Regions from separate parts of the Homo sapiens genome. Here regions 2, 3, 4, 5, 6 and 7 are each linked to region 1. Evidence: fine-mapped expression QTL. A gene starts in region 1. Each other region holds a variant in brackets. All regions are shown on one strand. Distances are between the middles of the regions.

Region 1 (4,067 bases):
AGATGCTCACAATCCAACCGTTTCTCTGTGTACTAACATGTGCTTTTCAAAATGAGTGTCATATTCTTTTTAGTAATACTTTTCTGTGTGTTATGCCCTTTAAATAGTTCTCGTCTTTAACTCCATGTGGCTCTGGTTTGTTTTGTGCCATGCTATTTTGCCCCATTTTCAGGTAACTTTTCTACCTGAATTACTTAGGACCTCTGGATTTATAGCAGATTTGATAAGACATAGATGATAGCATATTTAGATAAGGATCACAGCAAACAGAACCTCACTGAAACCACCCATTCTTCCTGCTTCCACATGGCAGGGTTGCTCAAGGTTTATAAGTAATGATTTTGGCTTTAGCAGCCGGAAGGTATGAGGGCTAAGTGACCTTCACACATGTTTATCTTAAATTATAGATAATTTTAAGAGTCATGAATGGGATTACTACTTATCTATTTTATAAAAGCTAATTATTTGGGATGCCCATCAGAAGAATGGTATCCCTTATCAAACGCTTCCTTAGACGTACTGAATAAAAGCATCAGTTTAGCCGGTACCTGTTAAGAGGCTATGTCTTTCTAAGAGATGTGTTATTTGATTCTAATTATAATTAACTTTGCTTATTACTAAGTAGATAATAATTTTCTCATTTCATATTTTTTCTGAATAACAGTTTTTCTCCCCATAGAGAATATTCAGAAGATGGAATCCTTTTAACGTAGAACTCAAGATGTGCCCTGTTCTCCCTGCCCGCCTCCCATTTCCCTAAACACACACACACACACACACACACACAAACACACACATTCTCCCTTCTCTCAAGATACTTTTTTTCCAACTGAGAGTCGTTGACTAATCACAGATGAGTTAATCCTTCCACAGTTTTGAAAAAGTCTAGCAACCCTCACCTTGAAGAGAGTGAATAGCGTGGCTAATCCATCTAAGAACAATGCACGAAAACGAAAAACGGAGAATCCTGCCCGGCAGTTAATTTGTTACTCATACTTGTTGAACTTAAGATTTGGAGCTAAATAAGTGCAGATGAGAGCAAAGACCCATCTTTTAAATATTTAAGCTTTTAGGCAAACCTGGGCAGGCAATATCACATTTATCAGTGCGAATTCTCCAATGCTCTCTAAAACTTTATTTCAATGATCTCACCTCCTGTAAGGAATTAATTCCCCCTTAGCTTGACCACAGGATCAATATCTTATCTTAAGAAGTGTTTAGGTTTTCTAAAAAAAGACCAGACACTGAAGACTTACATAAACATCAAAGCATTCTTTTTTTAATTCCTCGATATGGAGAAATTCATAGGCCGAAAATTAGGTAAATAGAGAGGTAATTACCAATGCCTGTTTCCTTGACAACTCCCCTCCCCCACCCCTCCTGTGATAGGGAAAAACCAAAATGAAAGTGAGGAGGGGTAGCCACAAGCCATGCTGGATTTTAGCAAACCAAAGCAAGAAGCAGAGCAGAAAGCTGCAAACTAGACACAAAATACAAATAAATCAATGTATATCGGGGCTGCATATTGTGTAGTATTTTTGTGGTTGCCATAGAAACGTCAGCGACGGAAGAACATGTTGCATGACACAAAAGAGAGCAATATGTAATAGGAACATTCCCCCCACCACCACCCCCCGCCCAGCTTCGTCTATAGCAGAGAAAATGCTTTAGCCCCGGGAGGGGGCTGGGTGGGTGGGTAAATGAAGCCAGGAACAGCAGCTTGAAATCACAGCCCAGAAAGGGACGCTCACCCGGCCCAGCACAAAGCGAGGGTCCTTTTGTACCAGCAGAGCCTCTCTTCGCCTCCCTCCAGGCGCCCCCTGCACCTTTCCCCCGCCCGCCTTGCACTCCCCCCCCGCCCCCGGAGCCTACCCCTTCCAGAGGTCCTAAGGAAATCCAGCCCAGGAGAGAAAAATATGCTGGGAAGAGGAATGCAAACATCAGCCACACCCAGCGGGGAAGGTGCCTGCGAACGGCACCAGGACCACATACCTCCTTCCTGGCAGCCTTTGGCACATGGACTTAGAAACCAGAAGCTGAGATGGAGCCGGCTGGGTTCAGAAATTGCCACTAGTTTATAAGAGCTGTAAGTCAGCCAACACTGGAAAGAAAAAGCGAGACTCCACCCATGGGGTGGACCCTTCAGGAAGAAAAAAAAAAAAAAAGTGGTCCTCAGCTGACGTCTCTCCCCACCCATGTCACTTCCTTTTAAAGCTACAAGTTAGCAGTTGCCGAGAGGGAAGAGCGAGCTGGTGTAATATGAGTCACTCCCTTCCCCTTCCAATTAGTGTAAGGCAGTGCTTCAGTTGGCTTCACGTTTGAAATCGCTTTTGAAATCTGGCTCGGGAAGCTGCCAGGATAAAAAAAAAATGAAAGCCCCCTGGAAGTGGCCTTGCTTTCTCTCCCCTTTCTCCCAAATCCTGTTGCATCCCTGCGCCCTAACGGCTCCTCTAACCTCAACCCAGACTCCGGCTCCGTCTGTGTTGCAACCTGGAAATTGTCCTCAGTTGGCTCATTTTTAATTCAGCAAGCGTAGGATCAATATGCCCACCCTCAAAACTCTCCCCTCACCTCTCCTCGGTCCGCTGTGCTGGAAGGAGATTGCGTTGCACTCAGAAGAGTCCAAATCATCTTAAACAAAATAAGCCTCAGCACTCAAGAGATTGAGATGTTATGAAGTGGGATGAAAGAAGCTTGGAGGTCGATTGATGTATTTTCTGTTTTCAAACCTTAGCACCATGGTTGATTACCACTGCACAGGCGTGCACACACGTACTGTCGCATGCTCACATGCACGTGGCATTTACACAGGTGTATCAGAGAGGGTCTGGGCAGACCTTTATAGTAAAAGTGTCTTCACAATTTTTAAAAAGGGTGGGCTGTTGAAAGTCCAGAAATGCCAGGATCTAGAAAATTATTTCAATTTCAAAATACTGAGGTGTATTCCTTTCAAATGTCCACTATTACAGCCATTGTCAAAATAATATTTAACTATTTACTTGACTCCTGGGTTAACCTTGTTCTTTAGATGTTTATAATCTATAAAGGAAAAATACATGTGCTCACAAATAGCCCAAGCACATTGCAGAATTACTAACAGCTATGCAAGTGTCAAAACCAGTGTGTCATGAAGACAGAATAGAAAGTGCTTTTTTGATTGCGATGGGGGAAGGCATTGATCATTCAGGAAACAGGGTTTGGAGTGGGTCCTATGGGAGGTGGCATTTTTCTTGTCTGTGATGAGAGACGGGGAGAGTGAAGCAGAATGTGGTGGAAGAGAAAGGATATGTGAGGCAAACAAAAAAAGGATCAGAACAGAAACCCATTTGTAGCAATAACTTGTTTTAATATCCATGTGAAAATAAATTTGACCACAGAGTAATGCTTATAAAAGATTTTTATAAAAAGTTCCTTGTAGTCATCATCTCTCGTAACTTTTCGAACTATGTTTTACGACCCATGTGCTTCTAGATTTGGTGGAAACTTGAGTTTTTCAAAGTGTTTTTCAAGTAGAGTTACACTGTTTTTCACGGTTGAATTCTGAATGGTAATTTATTTCAAAACCTACAAATTGCATAAATTCCTGATAATGTTATAAGTACAGTCAGTGATTTCAGTGGAAATGATAGGAAATTTAAAATTTGGACAATTGTAACTTTTATCCTGATCTCAGTACTTTAACATCCTCATTCCATTATTACATTACAATTATTATTATACTTATTATTGCTAACACTTTGCCTGTCTAGACAATGTTGCTCAGTCCCAGTTATCTCAGATATAGCTGAGAAATATGGGAGAAAAAGTTACTATTTCTAAAAATTTAACATAGAAATTCAAAATTCATGGATTAAATCCTATGCTTTTTTTTTTGAGACAGAGTCTTGCTCTGTTGCCCAGGCTGGAGTGCAATGATACGATCTCAGCTCACTGCAACCTCCACCTCCTGTGTTCAAGCAATTCTCGTGCTGCAGCCTCCCAAATAGCTGGGATTACAGACATACACTACCACACCCAGCTGATTTTTTGTGTTTTTGGTTGAGACGAAGTTTCACCATGTTGCCCAG
Region 2 (4,067 bases), 87 kb before region 1:
CCCCTGGCCCTGCCCCGGACCCCCCATTCCCACCTGTCATCCTCTGGCCTCTCTGTCCCTGCTTCCTCCCAGGCTCTGTGGTCCACCTCTGTTCCTCTCCTACACCTAGTGGCACGTCTCCTCACAGCCCATGCCCAGTCAGTCATCAGGGACAGTTTACCTGCCAGGTTTCCACCCATCTGGGCACTTGGCAAGACTAGAAATCTGACTACATCAAGCCTAGGAGCAATGAGAGCTTGGTAGCCATAAATACCATCAGCCCTTAGATTTTGTTCTCTAAACACCGTACCTGTGGTGTGTGTAGTATTCCTGGGAAAACTGTCAAACTCAAAGTATCAAGCACCCATACATAACTTCTAGTTTACAGGCAGGTCAAGAGGGAGGAGTAGGTTAAACGCCCTCACGATGAGCACCCACACACCCAGAGCACAGGAGGTTCTACGAGGCAGTGCTGGGCTTTTCACAAATTAAGGAAAAAAGAGGTTGGGTGGAGCGGGGGGTCTGTTCTAAATTAAGAGAAACTTCAGAGACATAAAAACGAAATGCAATGTATGGGCCCTATTTAAATCCCTATGTAAATACTCCAAATGTTTAAAAAAAAAAAAAAAAACAAGAGGGAGATAGTTTGGAAACAATTAGAGAAATCTGAATATAGGTGGTATTACATTATATTAAGAATGCCATTAATTTATATTCTTTTGATAATGACATTCTGATTATGTTTTTAAGATGTCTTTTTTTTTTTTTTTTTTTTTTCCAAAGACAGGGTCTCACTCCGTCACCCAGGCTGGAGTGCAGTAGTGCAATCTCAGCTCACTGCAGCCTTGACCCCCTGCGTTCAGGTGATTCTCCTGCCTGAGCCTCCCAAGTAGCTGGGGCTACAGGCCTGAGCCACCACACCTGGCCAAGATGTCTTGAATCTTTATAAAACACATCTCATGACAATGTGGGGTGATATTTCATGACATACAATGTCTGGAATTCAATTTTTACATTTTCATCAATCAACTCGATACCTGCCAGTAGGATGAAATATTTAAAGTGAAATCTAGATTCTTTGACTTTGGAGAATCCTTATGCTATTCTCTCTACTCTTACATAGATTTTAATTAAAAAGTTCAAGAAACAAGTTGCCTCTTCCACAGAAAATAAGTCCAGGAAGCAATGATCATCACGGCAGAGGCATCACCCGAAACCTCTCAGTCCTGGCTTGGGCACCGCTGCCTCTTCTCTAGCAGCAGCCGGAAGAGAGACAAAGACAAAAATGGCATAAAACTGTTCATCCCTAAAATATAGATCACGGTCATGCCTGGATTTTCTTTTTTTTAATTTCTGAAAGAGATGAAGATTACAATGCAATTTGAAAATACTTTGCATTTCAATGCCACTATATTTGAAGCGATTAAAAGGTCTAAAGTTCCCGAAGAGTAAAAGTAGTCCCTTTTCTGCCCCTCCTTTGCTTACTGCATGGAGTAGTGAGAAATTCTCGAAATCTTCCATTTTCTCCTCACCCCATTAACAAGGAAAGTCTCATTGCCTACTCTGGGCTGCAGAGCAGTCAAGCCACTGAGGTTGGACCTTCCAGCCCCCCACTTCTTGGGAGGCTGACTGACTATGGGCAGCTCCAACCCCCATGCCTCAGTCTCCTGATGGCTAACCTGGAACACTCATGCTTAAGATGAGTGAATCAGAGCCTGACTAACATGATGATGAATCACATTTCTTAGCCTACAAATCTGGGAATCAGACTCTGGAACGAGGCACAGGCAGTCCACGAGAAACCCTGCCACCTCCCTGCTGTCTCCCAGGGCTCCTCTATTTGCAGCCACATGGTATGTTTCCAAGAATTTCAACTTAGAGCAACTCGTGTTCCTGTGCACACCACCGACGGCCCCTGCAGTCCACCGGCTCGCTGCCGTCACTGGTTCTGTCCGCCCACATCTTCCATGTCCACCACCGCCTGTCCTCCCTTCCATCTCCAGCACTGCCCTCCTTACCTCTTGATGACCTTCTACCCAGTCTCTCTGCCTCCAAAGTCACCCGCTCCGCATGCCAGTCTCATGCCTTGCCGCCACTTCCTCCTGTTAGACGCCTCTGCTGGCTCCGCACGATCAACCAGATGACTGCAGGCTCCCCAGCAAGCCCCA[A/G]CTCCAGGCCACCCTCTCCTTCCCCCACTTCTCCCCACCGCACTTCCTGAGCTAAAGCCCAGAGCAACTGCAACGCTGTTCCTGGAACTACCTAGAATTCTCTGTACCTACCCCAAGCTCTGGGTTCTTGCTCAAGCTGTTCTCTTGGCCCAAAAGACCATTCCTTTCTAAAGGATGTCCAGCCTTTTCTGTTTTCCAAGTTTCAGTTCAAATAAGACCACCCACTTGCCCCTCACCTCCCTTAGGAGTAGTCTCTCTCTTCAACTCGCCTGAATCCCCCACGAGGGACACAGCCTCAGACTCTGAAGTCAGACCTGAATTTGAATTCCCATTCCACGATTTACTAATAACATCGGCATATTACTTAACCTTGCTGACTTTGTTTTATCTGTAAAAATGGAATAATATGATAATCACTCACAGAACTGCTGTGAACATCTAAGAAGAGAAGACTAAGGTTTGCAAAAGAACTGTGAGTGGCAATGATGTTGGTGGTCACCTTTTTCCCGGAACCTCTTGCTCCGCCTTCCATACTTTCTTTCTCACCTTCTATTCACAGGCACGTTTTGTCTTGTTCAGTATTCTTCTACCATAGAGTGTGCTTTCCTCAACAGCAGGGTCTTGTCTTGTTCATTTCGTTGTTGTTGCTGCCCACAGCATGCAAGGCAGGGTTTGCCCAACCATGGGTCTCAAGAAATATTGGAATCCAACAGTATGGGTGACAGCAGCAGTTGTGTAGCTAAGGAAAAATTCACCAGGATCCAAATCACAGCAAAAATCAGTTAAGGATGGTATGGTCCTGAAGCCCATTTATTTATTTATTTATTTATTTATTTATTTATTTATTTATTTATTTAGAGACAGGGAGGGTCTCACTGTCTCGCTCAGGCTGGATGGAGTGCAGTGGCACAATCTCAGCTCACCGCAACCTCTACCTCTCGCGTTCAAATTCTCCTGCCTCAGCCTCCCAAGTAGCTGGGATTACAGGTGTCCACCACCACACCCAGCTAATTTTTTTTGTATGTTTAGTAGAGACAGGGTTTCACCATGTTGGCCAGCCTGGTCTCAAACTCCTGATCTCAAGTGATCTGCCCAACTCAGCCTCCCAAAGTGCTGGGCTTACAGGCGTGAGCCACCGTGCCCGGCCCAACTTTTTTTATTTTAAAAGCACCATTATAAAATTACTAACTTGTTTAGGAATATTTAAAGCAAATTGTAAAATCTACATAAGATAAATACCTGCTCTAAATTTTCATCTAATTAATGTCTTCTCTCACCTTTCCCTTATTGAAATGTAATTCAGCTGATTTTCATTATCCAAATTCATTACCCACAGAGCAGAGAAATACGTATACATTAAAATGCAGTTTTAATATGTACAAATATATAATAAAATGCTATATATGTACTTTCTAATTTTGAAATGGATAAATTAAGATGCTAAAATATACACAATTACCAAAATAATTTTTACAGGCAGAAATGTGGAAGGGACTCTATCCCGGCACTGTTTTTTAAAAAACATTGTCTTTACATGGGACATTGATTGCTTCCATATCTCAGCCTAGGACGCCTTAGGATATTTAATTTTGTCTCTCTTCTAGTAGAAAACCAACTTTTTCAGTAGAGCAGCTTTTAATTATTAAGGATTATGTATAAATTGCACATTTTTCTATCAGACTTGTGATAAATTAGGTCACCAGATAATTCTGAGATCCTCTCCTTACATCACTTGTTTCAAGTGAAACTTCCCAGTGTTTCCAACAACGTAATATTCTGTCCCTATTAAGATGACCAGGTAAAATACAAGGTACCCCATTACATTTGAATTTCAGATAAATTACACTTTATTTTTTAGCATAAGTATGTCCCACGCAATACTAAACGACATTATGAGGCATGCAATATCTGGGACACATA
Region 3 (4,067 bases), 160 kb before region 1:
TTGAGGGGTGTGAGGGCTCAGAGGTGTGCACCAAGGCTGCTTTTATTGGTCATTTTCATGCTTCTCCTGGAATTTACCAAAGTCGGTTCTGCTCTATTTAAAGATACTTGTAGGTAAGACATATTAAAGAGATTGCCTAAAACTTTAGTTATCAGGGAACATTTAGAAAAATTTTGGATCTTGCAATAGTAAACTGCAGTAAACATAATTATAGATATATAAATATACGTCCAAAATAATTGGACAGTATTATTACAAGTTTAAGGAATGTAAGACAGCCCCCTGCAGTGGCTGGAAGTGCAGCTTGTTTGCATTGTTCACAGGAGAAGGCCAGTATGGGAAGGTGTACACCTGCATCAGCGTCGACACCGGGGAGCTGATGGCCATGAAAGAGGTGAGTCACCTGGCTCCGTGGGGCCTTTGGGCCTGGCGGCTCTGGGTGATAGAAATTCCGTATAGACGCTGGTCGTGATTCAGTTCTCTGTGCGTAGAGCTGTCTTCAGCACCAGCACTGCGACAGTCAGGACCAACCAGGCAGATGCACTGAGATAACACACACAGACAGTGAAGGGGCTTACGATTCCAGAGAGGATAATAAGTCACAGACAGTTCTAACAGCACAGGTGTGAGAAGGGCCTATGAGGGTGGCAGAGCTGAGTCTGATGAAGGCTTAGAGGAGAGGATTAACAGTAGTGTCTTATGGGGACACATTGGGGGAGAAGATAACATTTATGATAAGCTTCAGAAACAAGTGGCATTGAAACCGCTGGAGGTAGGATGGGGAAAGGGCCAGGGAACCTGAAGTAGAAACAGGACTCACTGCTGTCTGTGGAGACATCCGGTTTGACGTGGAAGGAGGAGAGGAGTGGAGAGGGGAGGCTCCAGCGTCTTGCACTTGCCGTGGAGCCGCGTCCTCCTCCACATGGCGCTCCTCACTCCCTCTCGGAGCAGGGCCTCTTCCTCCTCTGTGCCCGGGACCTACCCGCACTTCTATGACTTCACTCTAGCTTGGCTAAAAACTTCCTTTTTACTTAATTTTTTGTTGTTTTTAATTGACAAATCATGATTACATATATTTATGGGGTGCAAAATGATGTTTCAGTGTATGTGTATAATGTAGAGTGATTAAATCAAGCCAGTTAACATTTTTGTCACCTCACTTTACAGATTCGATTTCAACCTAATGACCATAAGACTATCAAGGAAACTGCAGACGAATTGAAAATATTCGAAGGCATCAAACACCCCAATCTGGTTCGGTATTTTGGTGTGGAGCTCCATAGAGTAAGCCGACCCTAATGCCACTCTTTGTGTGAGGAATCAGTGAGGGCACAGAATGGAGTCCTGTTCTACATCACAGGTCTTCTCATTTCAGAGCACAGTAACTTTGCCTAATTCTCAGGAAATCTCCATGAGTTACATCATTTCTGCCTTCTCTCTGAAACTAGAGGAGTTCCTCCTAAAATGTAAGTTGTAGACTGTAGTCATTAACCCGACATCATAAAGCACTGAAACCCATCCTGCCATTCAGAAGATTCTTCTAAAACGCCCCTTACACCACTTCTTGTGACTTTTTTTCCGTTTTTTTGCTGAACCACTGTTGAGTACACTGTTAAGTAATACTGGTTTTTTTCTTGTATGTATTTAGGGAGCCATTGTGAAATGAGAGAAAATTCAAACCTCAAATTGAGTTTCC[T/C]CCTTGTGTTTAGAAATAAACACGTCGAGGGAAAGAGGATAACTTGGAGCATCGTGGTGTAGAGCATGAGCTTCCAGGGGAAGTTGGAAATGGATCATTTTTAATGTTTTTACAAATTATGTTTAAAAAGGATGTGTTTCAGTACTTAATAATGTATTTGTAGGGACAGCCCTGTTGGTCCCTGTCTGAGATTATATAGCAGACTTAATTTCAGAGGATAATAGAAATTGATCCCCTGTGATTTGGAGATGTTCTTATCCCCAAGAGCTGTATAATTCCAGACAGAGGAGGCAGGCAGACACCTCTATAGAGGACTTAGAAACGACTGTTGTGAGACACATTCAGTGCTCAGGATGGCAAGTGTAGTATACCGTTAGAAAGAACATTCCTTTGGGGTGTGGCCTAGGAAGTTTTCCAGATTTTTCACTAGCGTACATCTAAGGAAAACCGTAAACACAGAGCTGCCCTTTATTCCTCCCACAGGAAGAAATGTACATCTTCATGGAGTACTGCGATGAGGGGACTTTAGAAGAGGTGTCAAGGCTGGGACTTCAGGAACATGTGATTAGGCTGTATTCAAAGCAGATCACCATTGCGATCAACGTCCTCCATGAGCATGGCATAGTCCACCGTGACATTAAAGGTAATCCCACACCCGCCTGGCTGCTGTGGGCCAGAGCCACTGGTACCCAGCCCGTGGGAGGTGCTCTGAAGACGCTCATCCCATTCCCACATATGATTTCTCTAGATGGAAATACCTTTCATTGAAATACGCCTCTATAAGGATCCTGTATTCAGAAACAAGGTAGAACTCATGTCTCTCTACCCAGGAGTCCGCTCTTTCTGTTCAACACTGCTTTTAGAGAAATCTGTTTTCCCAAAATGAAGTTTGCTATTTTTATAAGCTGATTTGGCATAGCCCGTGTACTTACCAGACATTCGTGATCAAAGCAACCTTTTTTTTCTCTCGTGTCAGGATTCTTGTCTATTTATATATGAAAATCATGAATATGTAAACCGACAGTAAATCAGATCAGAAGTGCACATATAAATTTGAGGCTACGTTTTTGAGACAAGAATGGGGTTTGTTTACACAAACCTTGAAATTGAGTTCTGCTGAAGGTTATTTTGGCCATGCTGATGGATTAAAAGTGCTCTTCTCATAGCACGAGGGGAATAGCTGGGCTTCTGTCTCAGAACGGTCACCGTGGCATTTGCCTTAACCACGCCATGCCCCTGACCTTTGTATTTGCAAGTCTTGAGGATAATTAAAATGGGGAAGTATTTTTGTGCCTATTTGGCCCTAGGCTGAAGAGTTTCATTCTGTCCTGTAGTCTGAGGCTAACCTAAACACATTAACTTAGGAACCGACCTGACTTCTGACCAGGGACAAGACCCAGTGTGGGAGGTTATTTTGGATTACACCAGTCTGCTTTGGTCTGGGTGTAAGCATTGTTCGTGCTCTGTAATGTGGCTCACCCTGAATCACCCAGCATACACCGGTCTCATTGGCTGCCTGCCTGTCCGCTACCTTGCTTTGGTGTCTGGGGTCATCCTGATGTTGGCTTAACTGGCTCTGTACCAGGCCGTAGCACTGCCTATTTCTAGTCGTTCTGCCACAGACACCATCCTCAGTCTCTGTCCACTGTCACAAAATGGTGTTTGCACGTTTGTTCCGTGGCAGGAAGAGACTCCCTTAGAATCTGAAGCAGGTCAGCTCACTGGTGTCTTATCCAATGCTTTCTAGTTCAGCATGGCTAAGAAGGTACAGATGTACAGTCGCTCGAGAAGATCAAGCTGCCCCTCGTAGTCAATTGTGGGGAGCATCAACTCTAGGAGCACTGAGTTATGAGGATTCGCTGTTGACCTCAGCTCATCAGATGGCTGCTTGTCTAACTCCATTGGCTCTGTGTTGTTGCTTTTCGAAGGAGGTACCATAGAACACAATGCCAGAGATGTGTGACTTAGTTGGAGCAATAATATCTTGCAGCCTAGAGCAAAAGGCCAAGCTGTCCTGAGAGATGAACAGTATTCCCAAATTCTAACTAGACTACAAGTTAAGCATATATGTTGCTTGTAGGAATATTTGAAAATTGCAGAACAGTTTTCAGTCACGTCATATAAATGCAAGGGCCTCAGCTGGGACTCTGAAGAACTGCAGTGCGTGTGCAGCTCTCATCTACATGTCGCTTCCTGTTTCAGACGCTGCTGATTGTACACATCTCTCATTCTCCAGACTGCCACCACAACAAGCACTTGTGTTTTGTATGCAGTTTCTTTTTAAGTATCTCTGTGGGTTATTAATGTTAGAATGTATGCATGTATTTCAGTTCAGAATTTATTGGTCAAGGCTACCTGCACTGGTGTTAAA
Region 4 (4,067 bases), 39 kb after region 1:
CTCTTTCTGCTAATACCATGTCTAAGGCTATCCTATTTTCCCAAGCCATCTGGCCTGTAGCCCCTAATGGCTCAGCTATTCCTTCAACAGCATCTCTAGTGTAGTTACTAAATCACTGTTGGTTGTAGTAGATGTAGTTTATCCAATCTACATTTTTATTAATTGTCACCCACCAAGATATTGACTCAAATCCTGCAGCTATTTGATTTCGGAATTCAAATTGATCTGGTATTCCCCGTGGGACTCCAGTTGCGTTTAAATAGACATGAGAGTCGAAAGACCCATAAGGGGCTTCTCTCGCATTATGATGTCTTATTTTTCCTTCCTCTAGTTGATGAAATGCCAGGGTGAAACGGATAGCCAATTGGACTAAAGCACAAGTGCCGCTCCAGTTATTCGGCAGAGTGTCCAGTAAAGGTCCACCAGAATACCACCACACATCCACTAGGGGATGAACAAGGGCTGACTGATTGATAAGTTCTTGAAAATTCTTAAGCTCACTGCATCCCCTCAGGTCTCCAAGGAATGCTGTTTCCTCCCTGTCGTGAGAGATATGAAGTTAACTTAGTGTTGGGAGACAGAAGCTGGATGGCCCTCAGGGGCTGGCCCATAGGATGCCGGACTTCGGGATATAGCAGAGAGAGAGCATGGCACAACTTGTTACTCCAGGCTGTAGGATCCGGGAAAAGAGCTATCATGCAGCCCACTCCTGGTCAACTGGAGGACCACCCTACTAGAAAGGGGACAATCTGGGCCTCTGGCCTGCCATGCACACAAGCATAACAATTGCTTTCGTTTAAAGTGCGGACGGAATATCTGATCCATTCCAACCAGGCATTTGCAACTTGGTAACCTGTTTCAATTGCCAATACTTGTTTTAAGTCTTTAACTTCTACGACAGCCATCTTGGTCTTGTGGTTAGATGGAGGAGGAGCAATTATTCCGTTGTGAGAGGTTTTGGAAGAAGGCTTAGAAGAAGGTGCAGGCAGTGCGGGATCAAAGAAATACATTTTAAAGAATCCAATAGGGTCTGTCCCTCAAACCTCAACCCCCATACCATAAAACTGGCTTAAAGGAGGGAACCGGCTTAGAAAAGGGGAAGAAGTTTGAGGATTCGAGATAATAACCTGTATAGGATTGCACTGGTTTAGCTGACACTTAGTGGGGGGCTGTCCCTCTAGTAACATGAATGTACAGTTTTAGGAAATTACAAAAACAGGTTGGGGCGGTCCATCCTTGCTCTTTAGTGGTCCACAGAATGCTGGACCAACTATGGCATAAAAGCTGTACATTGGGAGGGCAAGACTCCTGGTTGACGCCGGGGTCTTTATCAAAATCTCCTCGGATTAAATGGTCCCAGTTCACTAATGCCTAATCTGAGAAGAGTCAGGAGGGACAGAGGTGCTTTTCTGAAGTAGAGAGCTGTCTCTGACTTGGCAAGTTCCCACAGGGTATAACAAGGCAAGCACCAAATGCAATAGTTTGAGGCGAAATTGACTTGGTTATGTTAATAACTAGATGGTCAGCAATAGAGTGAGGAAAGAAGAAAAAGTAATAGAATAGATGAAAGAGTTAAATTTTTCTTAGCTTTAGTTTGGTAGCGTTTTCCCCTGGGACTATGGCCCACGACTCTGGAGAAGGCGGTGCTTTTTTGACTCGGGTGTGATGAGTCCATCCCCTTTCCACTGTATGAACAGCAGTCTCGGTGATTAGTAACACAAGGTAAAGTCCTTCCCAGGCTGGCTCAAGTTTTCCTTCTCCCCACCCTTTGATGAGAATGTGATCCTCAGGCTGGTGCTGGTTTACCGGAAATTCTAGGGCTGGTACCTGTGCTAAAAGACTTTTAGTTTTGAGGGAAAGGAAAGTAGAAGATAAACCAAGTATATAATTTCTAAGAAATTGATCTTTTGTTTTACATGTGGGGACATCAGCAATGGACTTTATAGTCCTTGGCACCTTCTTGCTGAGAAATTTTCTTTAGCACCTATTTTTATTATTTTTTAGACCAAAGAAAGCCAAACACC[G/A]TTTTATATTTGCCAATGCTTCCTGTATGATATTTATACCAGATAAGCTAAATTTCACCTTTACATTAGTGTGTTTTTAATGTTAAAGTTAATTTTAATAAAATCTTGTAGCCATATTTATCCAATTTTTAATGTCTGACCATATGGTAAGATTTGTATAGATGCTTTTTAACCTTTTATAATTTTTGTTAAAAAGCAGGTTAGTGCTTTAAGAAAAACATGTTGTGCTTTTATTTTAATGTCCAGTTCTCAGAAAAACTGGGTGATATCCCTTTAACTTTACCCAATATGTTTACACACAGAATTTCCTTTTCAATTAACATTTCAAAACTTGCCTAAACCTTTAAAACAATTTTTTTTTAACCATTTAATGTAGGTAAAAATCCACACTCTTATGTCTCCTTATAATCCTTTTACCAAAGTACGTTTTACTTTCCTTACACACCTTACACATAAACTGTTTCTTCAATAGTTTTACATTCAGGAGGCCTAATTACTTTTAAATTATACAACATTTCTTGCATAAATTCCCTTTTATAACTTTTTTTTCCCATAACTTTCACAGACAATTCTTCAACATGCCTCAACTTTCTGATTTGTTGCAAACATCCCTTTCTCTAAACAACCAGTTCATTTATTTTAGGACAAGAATTTACCATATAATATTCCTTTTTACATAAATTCTCTCCCCCCTCCTTTGTTTTTTCTCAAAGATGATAACCATTCTTTTCCAAATTGAACTTCCTTCATTTCTGTGGACTAGACTGTCTAAGGCCACAAGATTAGACGTTAGGATAATACATGTTACACTCTTAACTTTTAGCAAACTTTACTTTTGTTGAAAACCTTGTAAGTTTGGGATTTCAATTATTCTTTGCTATTAATAAGACCTCGTTCAGTCCATATTAACTTAGAATTAGTATAGATGACTCCTTCCTGATTCTGTAAGCACTTTAAGGCTTGGCTGAGTGCAAACAGCTCGCAGGCACGTTTGAGCAGACCAATTGTTAGGCAATTTTCCTAACTTGGCTTCTCCAAGAGTTTCCTTATCACTTACTGAATACCCATTGTGTCTTTTTCCTTCAATCACCCAGGAGGAAGCATCTACAGTCCTGTCCTGAAGGTAGTTCCTCCTAGGTCTGGTTGGACCTTTGTATGGTAATTAAGATTTAGATGCCCTGTTAGGAAACCTGGTGGGTTAAGGGAATTTTCAGTGGTTCATGTTAAATCATCTTTTTCTAACAGAATAGCCTCATACTTTAAGGTTCTTGAGTCAGTAAGCTATCTTTTGTTTTCTTTTTGACTTAGGATAGTTCTGACCTGATGAGGTGTGCTCACAATGAAGTTTACTCTAAAAGTTATTTTTCTACTTTCTTCTGTTAGCGAAGCAGTTTCCACTACAGATTGAATGCATTTGGGCCATCCACGGGTTACTGGGTTAAGGATTTTTGATTAGGAAGGCTACGGGTTGTCAGTCACCTCAGGGCTTTTGGGTTACAACCTTGTTTACACTGGCAACAAGGTGGTATTGGAGTGTTATAGGGTCAGGGAGAAGACCTTCAATTATTAATTATAGGTTTTAAATTTACCCTGGCTTTTAAAGGAATAGGGTACACTGTTTTCTCTTTACTACTCTCCCTCTCTCTGTTTGTCTCTGTCTCTTTCTCTCTCTCTGCCTCTCTCTCTCTTTGACTCTGTCTCTTTCTCTGCCTCTGCCAGCCGCTTATGCTGCTCTTCTCCCCTCTCCTTCCCCTTCCCCTAGGGGAGGGACCGGTGGGAGTGCAGCTACTCTTTCTTTCCCTGAGAAGAAAGGAAAGGGGAGTTCTGAATATTTTTCTTACTACAGGAGGTTTGTGTGAGGTTCAACCCCCTGAAATTTGCGGAAGGCTCAACCCCTCAAACCAGGGGGTGTCTTGCCTTGCTGCTCTAGAAGGTTGACCTGTTTCCTCCCTTTCCCCCTCTGAAGGTCCCTTGCACACTTCCCACTCGTGTTGTCCTCTCTGGCTGCTCCCCCAAGGGAGAGTTAGGCCCCTCTTAGTGTTA
Region 5 (4,067 bases), 130 kb before region 1:
TCAGCTCCTCAGATGCTCCTGGAGACGCCGTGTCCACACTGCACCCCTCAGATGCTCCTGAAGACTCCCTGTGTCCACACTGCACCCCTCAGATGCTCCTGAAGACTCCCTGTGTCCACACTGCACCCCTCAGATGCTCCTGAAGACTCCCTGTGTCCATACTGCACCCCTCAGATGCTCCTGGAGACGCCCTGTGTCCACACTGCACCCTGGGCAGTGCTCAGGCTTCTTTTTTTGGTACTCGCTACACAGCTGGGTGGCCCTGTCTGCAGCCTTCATCCTGAAGGGGCCCCTCTCCAAGACGGCGTGGGTGTGTGTGTGCCTTGCTGTTGCCTGCTATTGAAGCAGAAGGGTTGAGCTTGCCCCCGCCCTACCAGGGGCCCTGGCACCTGCAGCTGCCCCGGACCCTTGGCCAGCCTCAGCATGGCGGGGCATGGGGGTGCCCCTGGACCTGCCTTAAGGAGATGAGGTGCTTTCTTCTCCAACCTCTTATTTTTTTCCCTTACACGGTGTGGGTGTTGTTTTAATATTTTAATTTTTAACACTAAAATACATCTTAATCTTTCAAAAGACTGTATAGTAGGGTCTATTTGAGGAACAGGAGCCAGCTTGTCTACTGCACCCATATGCTGCAGCATTGGTTGGCTCAGTCAGAATGAATGAGCTAGGTTTATGTGCTGTGACCTGTTTTGGTGGTTATGATTCATTAGGTGAAAAGGCGAGCTGAAGAAACTCCACTGATACGGGTTTATAGATGCACATATGCTTGAGACTGGAACCACCACGTGCATCAAATTGTCATTAACGATTATCTGGGAAGTGGGCTCAATGGGAATGGTCTCCTGACACACTTTCCATTTTCTGCGCTTGTCTATTGCTTGGGCCTTTTATAGTGAGCATACTGCATCTTTGTGTTTGACAGAAAATAACTGAGTCCTGTCCATTTGGAAGAAGCACGTGATCTCTGTGTGCTTGGACAATGTGCCGTCTCTCCCGGGCTCTCCAAAGCCTCAGAGGACGCCAGGCTTGGGGAGACAGGGCCTTTCACAGGGAAACCCCAAAGTCTTCCTTGGCTCCAGGAAGCACGGACCTGCTGTTCACAGGGCAGGAAGCAGGCACGACAGGCTGCCCCGCCAGAGGCAAGGAGCAGGGTGCACAGGGGCTTGCCACCAAGAAGCAGCAGTAGCCCGAGAATACCGGTCACCTGGAGCCAGCGCAGACCCATGAAAAGCTCTGTCGCCGAGTGTCTCCACTCAGTGTCATCCACCTGCAGCAAAGGAGAAGCCACAGGCGCCCCCAGAGGAAGGCAGGGAGCTGCCCATCCGTCCCCGCCAGGCTCCAGCACAGGGCTTTCTTCAGAAGCAGGAAATGATGCCAATGAGCAGAGCTGTCTGCGGAGGACAGGGAGGGAGCACTCCCAGCTGTCGGGGAGTGAAGTGGCAGCTGCATCACCACCCAACAGGGAACGTGTGGAATCCAGCCCCAGGTGGGAGGCTGGACCGTCCAGGCTGCGGAGGGGGTCCCAGGCCTGGTATTCGAGGGCCTCGCACTCATCCTGAAGTCTAATCTTTCCCTGTGATTGCAAGCTGAGCCTGCTCCTCATCCACGGCACAACTGCCTATACAGATGGCCTTCGTCCCAGCCCTGATGCCACCTCTCCCAGGGTGGTGCTGTCAGCACCCACCAGCCCCTTGCCCTCCACTCACCCACAAAGAAGACGAGGATGAAGCTGGCCAGCGTCAGGGAAGACCCGCTCCTGATCATGCTGACCAGGAACTGGAAGAAAGGGTAGAGCACCAGCGAGGCCCAAAACAGCCAGTTCACGAGGGTCCAGGGCCGCCGGGGGGGCACCATGGGCGTCTCTGGGAAGGTGCCCGTCCTGTAGTACTCCTCCTGAAAGGCATCCTGGGGGACAGGAAAGAGGACCCTCAGACGCCACACGGGGCTCGGTGGCAGGTCCCTCCCGAGGCCCTGCTTCCAAGGGAATCGCAGAGATACACAGGTGCCACCGGGGCTCGGCAGAACTGGGGTCTGCAGCTCCTTCCAGAAAGCACTTTGTAGGCAGCTGCTGTCTTCTCAAAGCTGCATCTGGCCGCCCCTCCCACAGGGACACTGGGAGTGGTGGGGCCGCTGCAGCTGTCACTGAGTGCAGGGCGTGGAGCATGAACCCTGGCGCCAGGCCAGCCTGGGCTAGGATCCACCCTCTGTGGGCAGGCACCTGCATCCCTGAGCCCAGGCCCCAGTCTGTCTAATGGGGCAGCAGTGCCTTCCACGATAGGTCGGCGGGAGAATGGAGTGGATGCTGCGCCGAAGCTGCCCGCAGGGGACACTCGGTGGAGACCTGGCCCGCAGTCAGGAGGAGCTCGCCCAGCCCGGCCCGGCACATGCCCCGCCTTCCCGGCCTCCACAGCCAGTTCACCTCGGGCAGCCCACCCGCACCTACCACCCTGTTTGCCACTGGAGGGCTCTGAGGGCCGTGATTCAAGGCATCATGAATGACAAAGGGCT[G/T]GAGGGCTGCTGGGTGTGGCTCTCAGAGGTGACAGCACACTCAGGACTGGGTGTCCAGGGTGACTCTTCTAAGTGATTGTTAGACCGTGTGAAAGGTAAACAAACAGGCTCATGTCCTTCCACTAAGCAGATCCTTAGTGGGAACCATGTACTCATCCACATCCACCCACAGGGTGTGTGTGTCACCGAGCAGCTTGCAGGGCAGTTACTCCAGAGCCTCATGGCGCTCCTTGCAGTCCCTGGGTGAGAACAGGGGACTCACGGCCCCACATAAATGCACTGCGAAAGAACGCGGTGGCTCTTCCCTGGGTGTCTCATGTCACGGAGCTCCCGCTCAGGGACTGGGGCTCAGCCGCAAGGAGCTGCTGAACACAAGGGAGGGACCCAGGAACCCAGGTCAGCAGGCGTGCTCAAGCGGCTGGGAGCTGAGCTGAGCCAGGACCTGGGGGGAACAAGGAGCTGTGGCACCAGGATGCCCGCTGGCCCGTCTAAGGGCAGGTCCTGGCCGTGAGGAGGGGCCAGGGCAGAAGCTGCCTGCAGGGAGCAGAGCTGAACCAGGCAGCCACAGGGAATTGCCCAGGTTGTATGGTGGGCAGCTGCCTCAGCTATTGTAAAAGCTGCACGTGGCCGATAGCATGCACGCCACACAAAAATGGGTGTGGGTCACAGTGAGGCCCAGTTTGTGTCCCATGAACTAGCCTAGTAATGTCCCAGTTCTCTAAGGAGTCGAGTTTTCTGGAAAATGAGCTTCCTTATAATTGAAACTTATACTACTTAAATGCTGAATATTTTCCTTTAACAACTTGAGATAGAAAAGTCTAAAGTATCTCATACTTTTCTTCTTTTTCATTCAGGGTGTACTGAATCATAGGCTTTCTTGGCCTCTCAGAGGCACTTTTAATAATAGTCCACACACTAGGCCATTTTGGAAGGAGAACCCCCAACCCCTTCCCTGGGCAGTTCAGGTGCCTCTGCTCTGTCCTCGGCCCCCTGCAGCCCATTAACAAGCCTGGTCCGAAGCGTCACTTGTCGCGTGACTCTGCTGTTGGACATCAGCCAAGAGAAGCCATGGGGGCTCTCAGGGGAAGTCACATCATCAAGCAACTGAAGAACAATCAACGTGTGTGCCAAGCACTCCTACCCTCAAGCAGTGAGAGCGATCAGATGGTGGAGGAGACAAGGAGGTGAGCACCATGACGGTCAGCAGCACAGGCAATGCCCAGAGAGGTGGCACCCAACTCTGCCAGGGAAGCAGCGGCATTCGCCTGCCCACCAGAACGGGGTGATTTTCTTATCCCAGGTTGGGGCCACAGGGCACCTGATAACTAGACAAGGGGGGTGATATTTTTGTGCCTTGTTTTTTTTTAAAAAAAAAACAGCTTTCTTAAGATGTCACTTACATGCCATAGAACTCACCCATTTTAAAAAATGGGCAAATGTGGCTTTTGAATTTATTTTCCTTAACAGTCTTTATAGTGCTTTTTTACAGTAATATCACAAAGGGGAACTCACCATGGTGCCTTTTCTGTCTTGTTTCCAGAAAGACATTTGCTAGGCCA
Region 6 (4,067 bases), 120 kb before region 1:
TGGGTTATGGTGTGTACCAGATCTTGTATAACACTAGAGAGGAGTCAGCAAGCTACTGCCCTCGGGACAAGCCTGCTCCTCTGCCTGCTTTTGTAAGTGACGTCCTGTGGCCACACAGCCTCTTGTCCATGTGCCTATTGTCTGCAGCTGCCTTCACGCTACACACAGGAGTGTTTTTTGACAGACACGCTGTGGTCCACAAAACCTAAAATATTCATTCTCTGGCCCATTCCAGATGACATTTAGAGCCACTAAATTTAGAGCCACTAATTAGAGCCTAATTTAGAGCCACTAAAACTTGTTTTCTATGACTGTGTAATGGCTAGGCAATGGTTTACTGTATAATACTAAATTTTTAAAAGATCTGGAACAAAGGTGAGTCTATAGCATTATTATGACTTTATGAAAAAAGTAAAGCAGAGAAAAACAACAGTAGTTGTTGCTGGGCTGTTGGGAACAGGCCCCCAAAATCTGGCCATAAACTGGCCCCAAAACTGGCCATAAACAAAATCTCTGCAGCACTGTGACATGTTCATGATGGCCATAACACCCACACTGGAAGGTTGTGGGTTTACCAGAATGAGGGCAAGGAACACCTAGCCTGCCCAGGGCGGAAAACCGCTTAAAGGTGTTCTTAAACCACAAACAATAGCATGAGCAATCTGTGCCTTAAGGACATGCTCCTGCTGCAGTTAACTAGCCCAACCTATTCCTTTAATTCACCCCATCCCTTCGTTTCCCATAAGGGATACTTTCAGTTAATTTAATATCTATAGAAACAATGCTAATGACTGGCTTGCTGTTAATAAATACGTGGGTAAATCTCTGTTCAAGACTCTCAGCTCTGAAGGCTGTGAGACCCCTGATTTCCCACTTCACATCTCTATATTTCTGTGTGTCTTTAATTCCTCTAGCACCGCTGGGTTAGGGTCTGCCTGACCAAGCTGGTCTCAGCACTGGGCAGTCATTTACAAGTGATTTTTATTTTGTTAGATTTTCCAGTTTTTTATTGTAAACATATTTCACAGTATCCCTGTAACAATGTCACTTTTAAGAAGGGGCTGACATCAGCATGCTTTCGCCATCTGCTTTGGGAATATAAGTGAGGCTCTGGGTCAGAAACAGTTTTGTTTTGTTTTGAGACAGAGTTTTGCTCTTGTCGCACAGGCTGGAGTGCAATGGCACAATCTTGGCTCACTGCAACCTCCGCCTCCCAGGTTCAAGTGATTCTCCTGTCTCAGCCTCCTGAGTAGCTGGGATTACAGGTGCCCATCACCATGCCTGGCTAATTTTAGTATTTTTTGTAGACACAGGGTCTTACCATGTTGGCCAGGCTAGTCTCTAACTGCTGACCTCAGGTGATCTGCCTGCCTCGGCCTCCCAAAGTGCTGGGGTAACAGGTGTTTTTGATGATCAAAGGGAAAAGAAGAGACATAACTTTCTTTATACTGGCTTAATCCATCTTTCAGCCTTAAAATTTTGGATGTTATCAATATGTCTAGGTTTTGATGTTAACTATGTTTGGTAAGAAACATGTTAAAATATTAAGGTAGAAGCTTTTACTTCTTCAAACTGAAGAAATGTCACTCAATTCTCTTTCCCTGGCAGGGCTGCATGAAAAGCTCTGGAATGAGACAGTCCTGTTTCTAACCAGGCTCTACCACGACCCAGCTGTGTAACTGTGCTCAAGACACCCAATCCTTCTGAGCTTCTGTTTCCCCTCTGTGTGATGAGGAAGACAACACATATTCCCTGGTGTCCCTGTAAAGACTGAATAATGTATGGAAACATCTACAAAAGCACAAAGTTGAGACTCTGACATGGGCGTTCAATAACTTGTAGCTATTATTTTCATCCCAGAGCAAGCAGTATCTGAACACCTCCTTATTCAACCCATTTTCTCTGCCATGCTTTAGCGTAATAGTAACAACAATAGATTACATTTATTTAAGCACAACTGAAGAGTCACTGTGCACAGACAGTTGCCCAAGTTAACTCACTTATGACAAAGAGACTAGAAACTGCTATTAAGACATACTGACAGTTCCCCCGGCAAAAGGTTCAATAGGCTATAACTATCATGGCTTTCCCAGGCCACTCAGAGGCTTCCATGTGTGATGCCAACAGCTTTCAGAGAGAATGTACAAGAAAATATACTAATTTCATCAATTCTGGATTTATTTCACAGGTCAACGTGAAAGGATTTACTGATGAGTTAGATGTATCAACAGATCTGTCTAGATACAAGCATATTTAGACAA[T/C]CTAAAATTTTCACGTGGAGTAAACCACTATGGAGAGAGAGAGTGAAAGAGAGAGTTGTCTTAGGGCAGGTGCTTGGAGCTAATCTAGTTGAGCGACCCATCCTGAGGCTCCCCACAGCTCAGGGAAGCAGCCAGCCCCATGACCTGGTCTGCATCTCTGGCAAGTGGGCCAGCCCTTGCAGAGACCCTGGACGTTGGGAAGAGCTGACGCAGAGAGGGCCTGAGACCCAGTACTCTGACCCTGACCTTCAGAAGCTCTACAGCCTCTGGGGTGAAAAGGGATCGGAATGAGGCCATTCTAGTTAAGGTTTTCTCCAAAATGGCTACTCATCAAGGCTTCAGATGAAGATTCCAAACCCCGGTGCTGCGAGCAGCATGGCTGGGAGCAGCAGGGTATCCTGCTCCTGCACCGCCTCCACCCCCACTAACACCAGCAAGGAACCCCTCAGGGGCTGAGGCTCTATGGCCAGCTTTGTTTGCAAACGTCCAGTCATTCATGAAGGTTTCCCAGTAGGGTTACCAGTTAGTCAAGTGAGCCAAGGTCATTTATTTCTACTAAATATATAAAATGAGGTATCTTAAGTGGAACTTCAAAAACAGGTGAGATGTTCCTTAACAATAAAGCAGGCTAAACAGCCTGCCTTTGAGTCCTTTGACTGTTTTCTTGACTACCAGCTGGAGCCACTGTAGCAAATGTTTCAGTTCCCTGGAGCCAAGACAAGCCATCCAGCCCTATCACTCCAGGGTCCCCACAAGTCTCCCCATAGCACAGCCTCCATTCTGATGTATGGTGCATAAGCGCATCAGATTGGAATCTTCAACCCAAGGCTGCTCTGTCTGTGCAAAGGTATTGATTAAGAAGCCCCCTATGCCAGGCATTATGCAGGTGCCGAGAACTCAATGCTGGTTATGATTACCTGTGGCCTTGAGGTGCCCAGAGTCTAGTGGGAAGGGAGAAGCAGAAAGCTTTCAGTTTCTGTGTTCCACTTCTGCCACTAAACTCTGCCAGTAAGTTGTTGTACAGACCCCTTCTGGCAAGAAAGGTGTGTGCAAGAGAGGATGGTATGGGCCTGGAATCTCTGAAATCTGTCCCTAGTTATAGCAAAATGCAGAAAAGACTGGAGCTCAAAATAATGAATCAGTTTGTGTGCACGCGTGCGTGTGTGTGTGTGTTCATCAAAAGGTGAGAGACTCCATTCTCTTTTTTTTGAGACGAAGTTTCACTCTTGTTGCCCAGGCTGGAGTGCAGTGGCACAATCTCAGCTCACTGCAATCTCTGCCTCCCGGGTTCAAGCGATTCTCCTGCCTCAGCCTCCGGAGTAGCTGGGATTACAGGCACCTGCCACCGTGCCTGGCTAATTTTTTGTATTGTTAGTAGAGACGGGGTTTCACCATGTTGGCTAGTCTGGTCTCGAACTCCTGACCTTCAGGTCTCCCAAAGTGCTGGGATGGGATTACAGGTGTGAGCCACCAAACCTGGCTTTTCTTTTTTTTTTCTTTTTTTGAGATGGAGTCTTGCTCTGTTGCCCAGGCTGGAGTGCAGTGGTGCAATCTCAGCTCACTGCAACCTCCGCCTCCAGGGTTCAAGCGATTCTCCCACCTCAGCCTGTGGAGTAGCTGGGATTACAGACACCTGCCACCACACCCAGCTAATTTTTTTTTTTTTTTTTTTTTTTTTTTTTGTATTTTTAGTACAGACGAGGTTTCAACATGTTGGCCAGGTTGGTCTCAAATTCCTGACCTCAGGTGATCCACCCGCCTCGGCCTCCCAAAGTGCTGGGATTAGACTCCATTCTTGCCAACTGC
Region 7 (4,067 bases), 59 kb before region 1:
AAGAATCAATTTTCACTGTAACAGGCCACAATCAGAGAAACTGTTTATTTTACCAAGACTTTGACTGTAATGGTGTGCTTTCCTTTAAGGAATCAAACTTGACTTATGAAGCCAATAAAAACCCCTTGGAAAAAACTGGCCTCATACCTTTGTCTACACAGCCCCTGCACAGGGTTCCTGACCTGTGGTAGGTAAACAATGTCACTTTCTGGCAGGTCCAGGAGCCTCAAGTTTATCTTGGAACCTCAAGAGGAGCTGATCACCCAACTCATAGGTATTTGATGGCACAAATCCATGGCTGGGCTCGGCTTTAAAAAAGTCTTATCTGAGATTCCTCCTATGGAACACAGTTCCATCAAAGCCAATTTAAAAGCCTTTGTAAAAATAATTATTCTTGCTGCACTGTATACAAATAATTAGGCCAAGTATAATAAAGCAAACCAGTCCTACCATGATTTGTCTTTAGTAAAAATGGGAAACTGAAGAGAGAATAATTATGCTTCAAAACTATAGTACACCTGTTGTTAGATTCTAGTTTTATCTTACATTTTTCAATTTTTATTATTTTCTACAGTTTGGACTGAATTCTAAGTTTTCTGGGCTACAAGTCTTCAAAATAATGTTTTCAATTTTTTGTTCCTTCCTTTTTTTCCCAATTTTTCCTAATTTGGAGTCACTGAAAACTAAGCTGTGCTTTTGTAAAGCCCTGTGAACTGAAGCCAGACAACTTAAACTTCAAAAGAAAATGACAACAATCTATTTACATACATAAGCCACTTTCATACCTGCCTACTGATGTATGGGCTTCAGAGTAATGTGGCCTATATTGATTTTTCCAGGATTGTTCTTTTGCTTGTTGTTGTTTGTCTTCCTTCCTCTATTTTCTCTTCATAGAATAACCTTATAAAAATGAGTTTTCCTAATAACTTAGATCCTACCTGTCTAGGAATAAGCCATCCTAGTCATGAGAGATCAGACAAAACCTGGGAACAGAGACTCATCTTCTTCTAAAATGCTTTCTCCAAAAAAATTTTTTAAAGTGGGGGTGGGGGTGTTGGGGAATGTGAAAGGAAAATATCTTAGGCCCCCAAAATCACTTAAAGGGAAAATTCAAGCTGGGAACTGTTTAGGGCAAACGTGCCACCCATTCTATTCAAAGGCATCCCTCTGCTCACTGAGATAAATGCATATCTTACTGCCTCCTTTGGAGAGGCTCATCAGAAACTCAAAAGAATGCTACCATTTGTCTCTCACCTACCTGTGACCTGGAAGCCCCTCTCCTTCGAGTTGTCCTGCCTTTCCAGACCAAACCAATGTTCATGTTACATCTGTTGATTGATGTCTCGTGTCTCTCTAAAATGTATAAAACCAAGCTGTGCTTTGACCACCTGGGCACATGTTGTCAGGACCTCCTGAGGCTGTGTCACAGGCACACATCCTCAACCTTGACAAAATAAACTTTCTAAATTTACTGAGGCCTGTCTCAAATTTTGGGGGTTTCAGAAGCCTGTTGCTCCTAGGCTGCTCACCTGTACAGCATGTGACTGTACTGAATACTGTAGGTCACTGTAACACAATGGTAACTATTTGTGTATCTAAACATAGGGCTGGGCAT[G/A]GTGGCTCATGCCTGTAATCCCAGCCCTTTGGGAGGTCAAGGCAGGCGGATCAATTGAAGTCAGGAGTTCGAGACCAGCCTAGCCAACATGGTGAAACCCCGTCTCTACTAAAAGATACAAAAAAATTAGCTGGGCATGGTGGCACACACCTGTAGTCCCAGCTACTCGGGAGGCTGAGGCAGGAGAATCACTTGAACCCAGGAGGCAAAGGTTGCAGTGAGCCGAGATCGTGCCACTGCACTCTAGCCTGGGTGACAGAGGAAGACTCCGTCTCAAAATAAATAAATAAATAAATAATAAAATAAACATAGAAAAGGCACAGCAAAAATACTGTATTACAATCTTAGCAGACACCGTTGTAAATGTGGTCTACTGCCTGAAAAGTCATTATGGGGCACGTGACTATATTTCAAAACTATCTACGTTGACCTCCAAACCTGTTCTGCTGGCCTGCCTTAGATAAGACTGAGACAAAGGCAACAGGCCCATCTGCAGTTTCAAAAAATCAGACCATATCCAGCTTCATACTAACAATTTTTTCTTTGGTAGGACTACAAGCTATGTTTTTTATGTGACATTTTAAATACTTATTTAAATACCCCATAGAGACTGTCTAGATGCTTCACATTTCTATAGGCTTGAGTACAATTTTAATACTATTACAAGAGTCTTCACAATTTGGCAAGCTACATTAATGACCCTATTTAACTTATGATCCTACTCTTCCATAACTCATACACTGCATGTGTTGTAATCTGTTGCCTAGTTAGCAAATGTTTCTGTAGAATTAAGCTTCCCCGTATCTGTGGGTTGAAAATGTTTACACATCCCAGCGGACATATTTGTGCTGAATCTCAAGGTTTTTGAGGCCATGGCTCATTCCTTCTCTGCCATTTCCCATACTCTTGGATTTACAAAACATACGCATATACCCAGCAAACACAGACTGACAGTGACTCACCCTGATCTCATGCTCGGTAATCAGGTTCAGATATCCTGGTCCTTCAGCATGAGTGTGGTTCTCAGGTCTGTCTCTCTGGCACACATTACAGGCAAAACCCATATTTTAAATGTATAACAAGCTCTTTTTGAACCTAAAACATTCTAGTCTTTATATTCTGAAGCCTAGCACATGCTTGAAACACTGATATCCTTGCAGTGGCTGAGGGGTATATCTGCTTGAACCACACAGTAGAATAACCTCCCTTACCATAAAAAAAAAAAAAAAGAAAACACAAAAACACAAGATCCAAGTTTCCTGTTGATAGCTCAAACTCTAAAAGTCCTACCAGCCACCAACCCATTGTAATTTCTCCTTTTTAGGTAGATATACCCATTATTTTATTCGTAATACAGCATTACCTTTCAAACTATACATCAAATTGAGTAGAGCAGACATAGTCAAGTTTATCTATGCCGGCAAGCAAAACTCTTCGCATGCACCCTGCCATGAAGGGCTATCAAACCTCCTCTGCCCCTAGAGCTGGAAAGCTGTCCAGGCTCACACATACTTGCCTCTCTTAACCGCACCATGTCCAGTTGACGAGGATTAAAGAAAACAAACAAAAAATACCTTTCAGCTAAAGCCAGATTTGTGAGGCTGCCAAGAGCACTTTTCCCTCCTGCCTTGACAAGGCTTCTTCATAGTCTGACAAAGGAGACTAACACTCTTAGACACAAATACAAGTTGGAGATGTCTCTGAAAGGGTTCTGAACCCACGTTGGGGTTGGGTGGGAATAACTCAATGGATGACTGAAGCAAAGGGTCAATGCTTTCAGGGCTCTCAGAGTAAAGCCATGAAACAGAATAGGCAACAGCAGCCCCAGTCTCTTCTGTCCTCAAGCAAACGTCTGCAACAAGTGCGTCTCTTGTCCAGGATGACAGACAACCTCTGCAACTGCCTTCTACAATCTTCAGGCTCACTCTCCTCAGGACAGTGAAACGCTTCCGGGCAATCGTTCTTTCCTCATTCTTTCCCAACTTCCTCCCTGGGCTCCACTGTGGAAACCAAAATGCTGGGGCAGCATCAGCCCCGACGCCCCAGGCCCCACCCCAGCACTCTCTTAATTCAGATGATTTTCCCCAGTGTCCGTTTTCACACTGCTGCTGAAGACATGCCCGAAACGAAACCAAAAAAGGTTTAAAAGGTTTAATTGGACTTACAGTTCCACATGGCTGAGGAGTTCTCACAATCATGGTGGGAGGCGAAAGGCTCTTCTTAAGCAGCGACAGCAAGAGAAAATGAGAAAGAAGCAAAAGCGGAGACCCCTGATAAACCCATCAGATCTCGTGAGACTTACTATCACGAGACTAGCACGAGAAAAACTGGCCCTCATGATTCAACTACCTCCTCTTAGGTCCCTCCCACAATACGTGGGAATTCTGGGAGATACAATTCAAGTTGAGATTTCGGTGGGGACACAGCCAAACCTATCACCCAGTAATCCCTG

Alleles and levels. Alleles are on the strand shown, and positions count from the first base shown. SD is a standard deviation of normalised expression in the study named. Not every link is listed here.
For the expression in monocytes after LPS of the gene that starts at base 2,116 in region 1, C is the low allele of the variant in region 3 and T is the other (large effect, 1.1 SD a copy in Quach 2016).

Evidence for each region. PIP is the estimated chance that this variant, and not a neighbour inherited with it, causes the effect.
Region 2: its variant is the best candidate, but not a certain one, in a credible set for the expression of AGPAT4 in whole blood (INTERVAL, PIP 0.88).
Region 3: its variant is the best candidate, but not a certain one, in a credible set for the expression of AGPAT4 in monocytes after LPS (Quach 2016, PIP 0.76).
Region 4: its variant is the best candidate, but not a certain one, in a credible set for the expression of AGPAT4 in caudate (GTEx, PIP 0.63).
Region 5: its variant is the best candidate, but not a certain one, in a credible set for the expression of AGPAT4 in whole blood (TOPMed, PIP 0.51).
Region 6: its variant is the best candidate, but not a certain one, in a credible set for the expression of AGPAT4 in whole blood (INTERVAL, PIP 0.51).
Region 7: its variant is the best candidate, but not a certain one, in a credible set for the expression of AGPAT4 in whole blood (TOPMed, PIP 0.65).

What each region holds. Positions count from the first base shown.
Region 1 is chr6:161,271,946-161,276,012 of GRCh38, forward strand. It overlaps AGPAT4 (1-acylglycerol-3-phosphate O-acyltransferase 4), which reads right to left and starts at 2,116. Exons shown (of 9, transcript NM_020133.3): 1 at 1,993-2,116.
Region 2 is chr6:161,184,550-161,188,616 of GRCh38, forward strand. All of the region lies in intron 2 of AGPAT4 (1-acylglycerol-3-phosphate O-acyltransferase 4), which reads right to left. Among named protein-coding and RNA genes, the nearest start is that of AGPAT4-IT1, 25 kb to the left of the region's middle. RefSeq lists enhancers at 1,154-2,353, 1,410-1,950. The variant A/G (reference allele first, on the strand shown) is at 2,148.
Region 3 is chr6:161,107,576-161,111,642 of GRCh38, forward strand. MAP3K4 (mitogen-activated protein kinase kinase kinase 4) reads left to right here. Exons shown (of 27, transcript NM_005922.4): 21 at 324-394; 22 at 1,168-1,284; 23 at 2,180-2,339. Among named protein-coding and RNA genes, the nearest start is that of AGPAT4-IT1, 52 kb to the right of the region's middle. The variant T/C (reference allele first, on the strand shown) is at 1,697.
Region 4 is chr6:161,310,598-161,314,664 of GRCh38, forward strand. No RefSeq gene overlaps it. Among named protein-coding and RNA genes, the nearest start is that of AGPAT4, 39 kb to the left of the region's middle. The variant G/A (reference allele first, on the strand shown) is at 2,025.
Region 5 is chr6:161,137,716-161,141,782 of GRCh38, forward strand. It overlaps AGPAT4 (1-acylglycerol-3-phosphate O-acyltransferase 4), which reads right to left. Exons shown (of 9, transcript NM_020133.3): 8 at 1,707-1,905. It overlaps LOC124901455 (a long non-coding RNA gene), which reads left to right and starts at 1,901. Exons shown (of 2, transcript XR_007059860.1): 1 at 1,901-2,751; 2 at 3,363-4,067. The variant G/T (reference allele first, on the strand shown) is at 2,509.
Region 6 is chr6:161,156,191-161,160,257 of GRCh38, forward strand. The region is part of intron 3 of AGPAT4 (1-acylglycerol-3-phosphate O-acyltransferase 4); the gene reads right to left. AGPAT4-IT1 (AGPAT4 intronic transcript 1) reads right to left here. Exons shown (of 1, transcript NR_024277.1): 1 at 3,924-4,067. Among named protein-coding and RNA genes, the nearest start is that of AGPAT4-IT1, 3.8 kb to the right of the region's middle. RefSeq lists enhancers at 2,087-2,588, 2,589-3,088. The variant T/C (reference allele first, on the strand shown) is at 2,262.
Region 7 is chr6:161,212,879-161,216,945 of GRCh38, forward strand. The region is part of intron 2 of AGPAT4 (1-acylglycerol-3-phosphate O-acyltransferase 4); the gene reads right to left. Among named protein-coding and RNA genes, the nearest start is that of AGPAT4-IT1, 53 kb to the left of the region's middle. The variant G/A (reference allele first, on the strand shown) is at 1,616.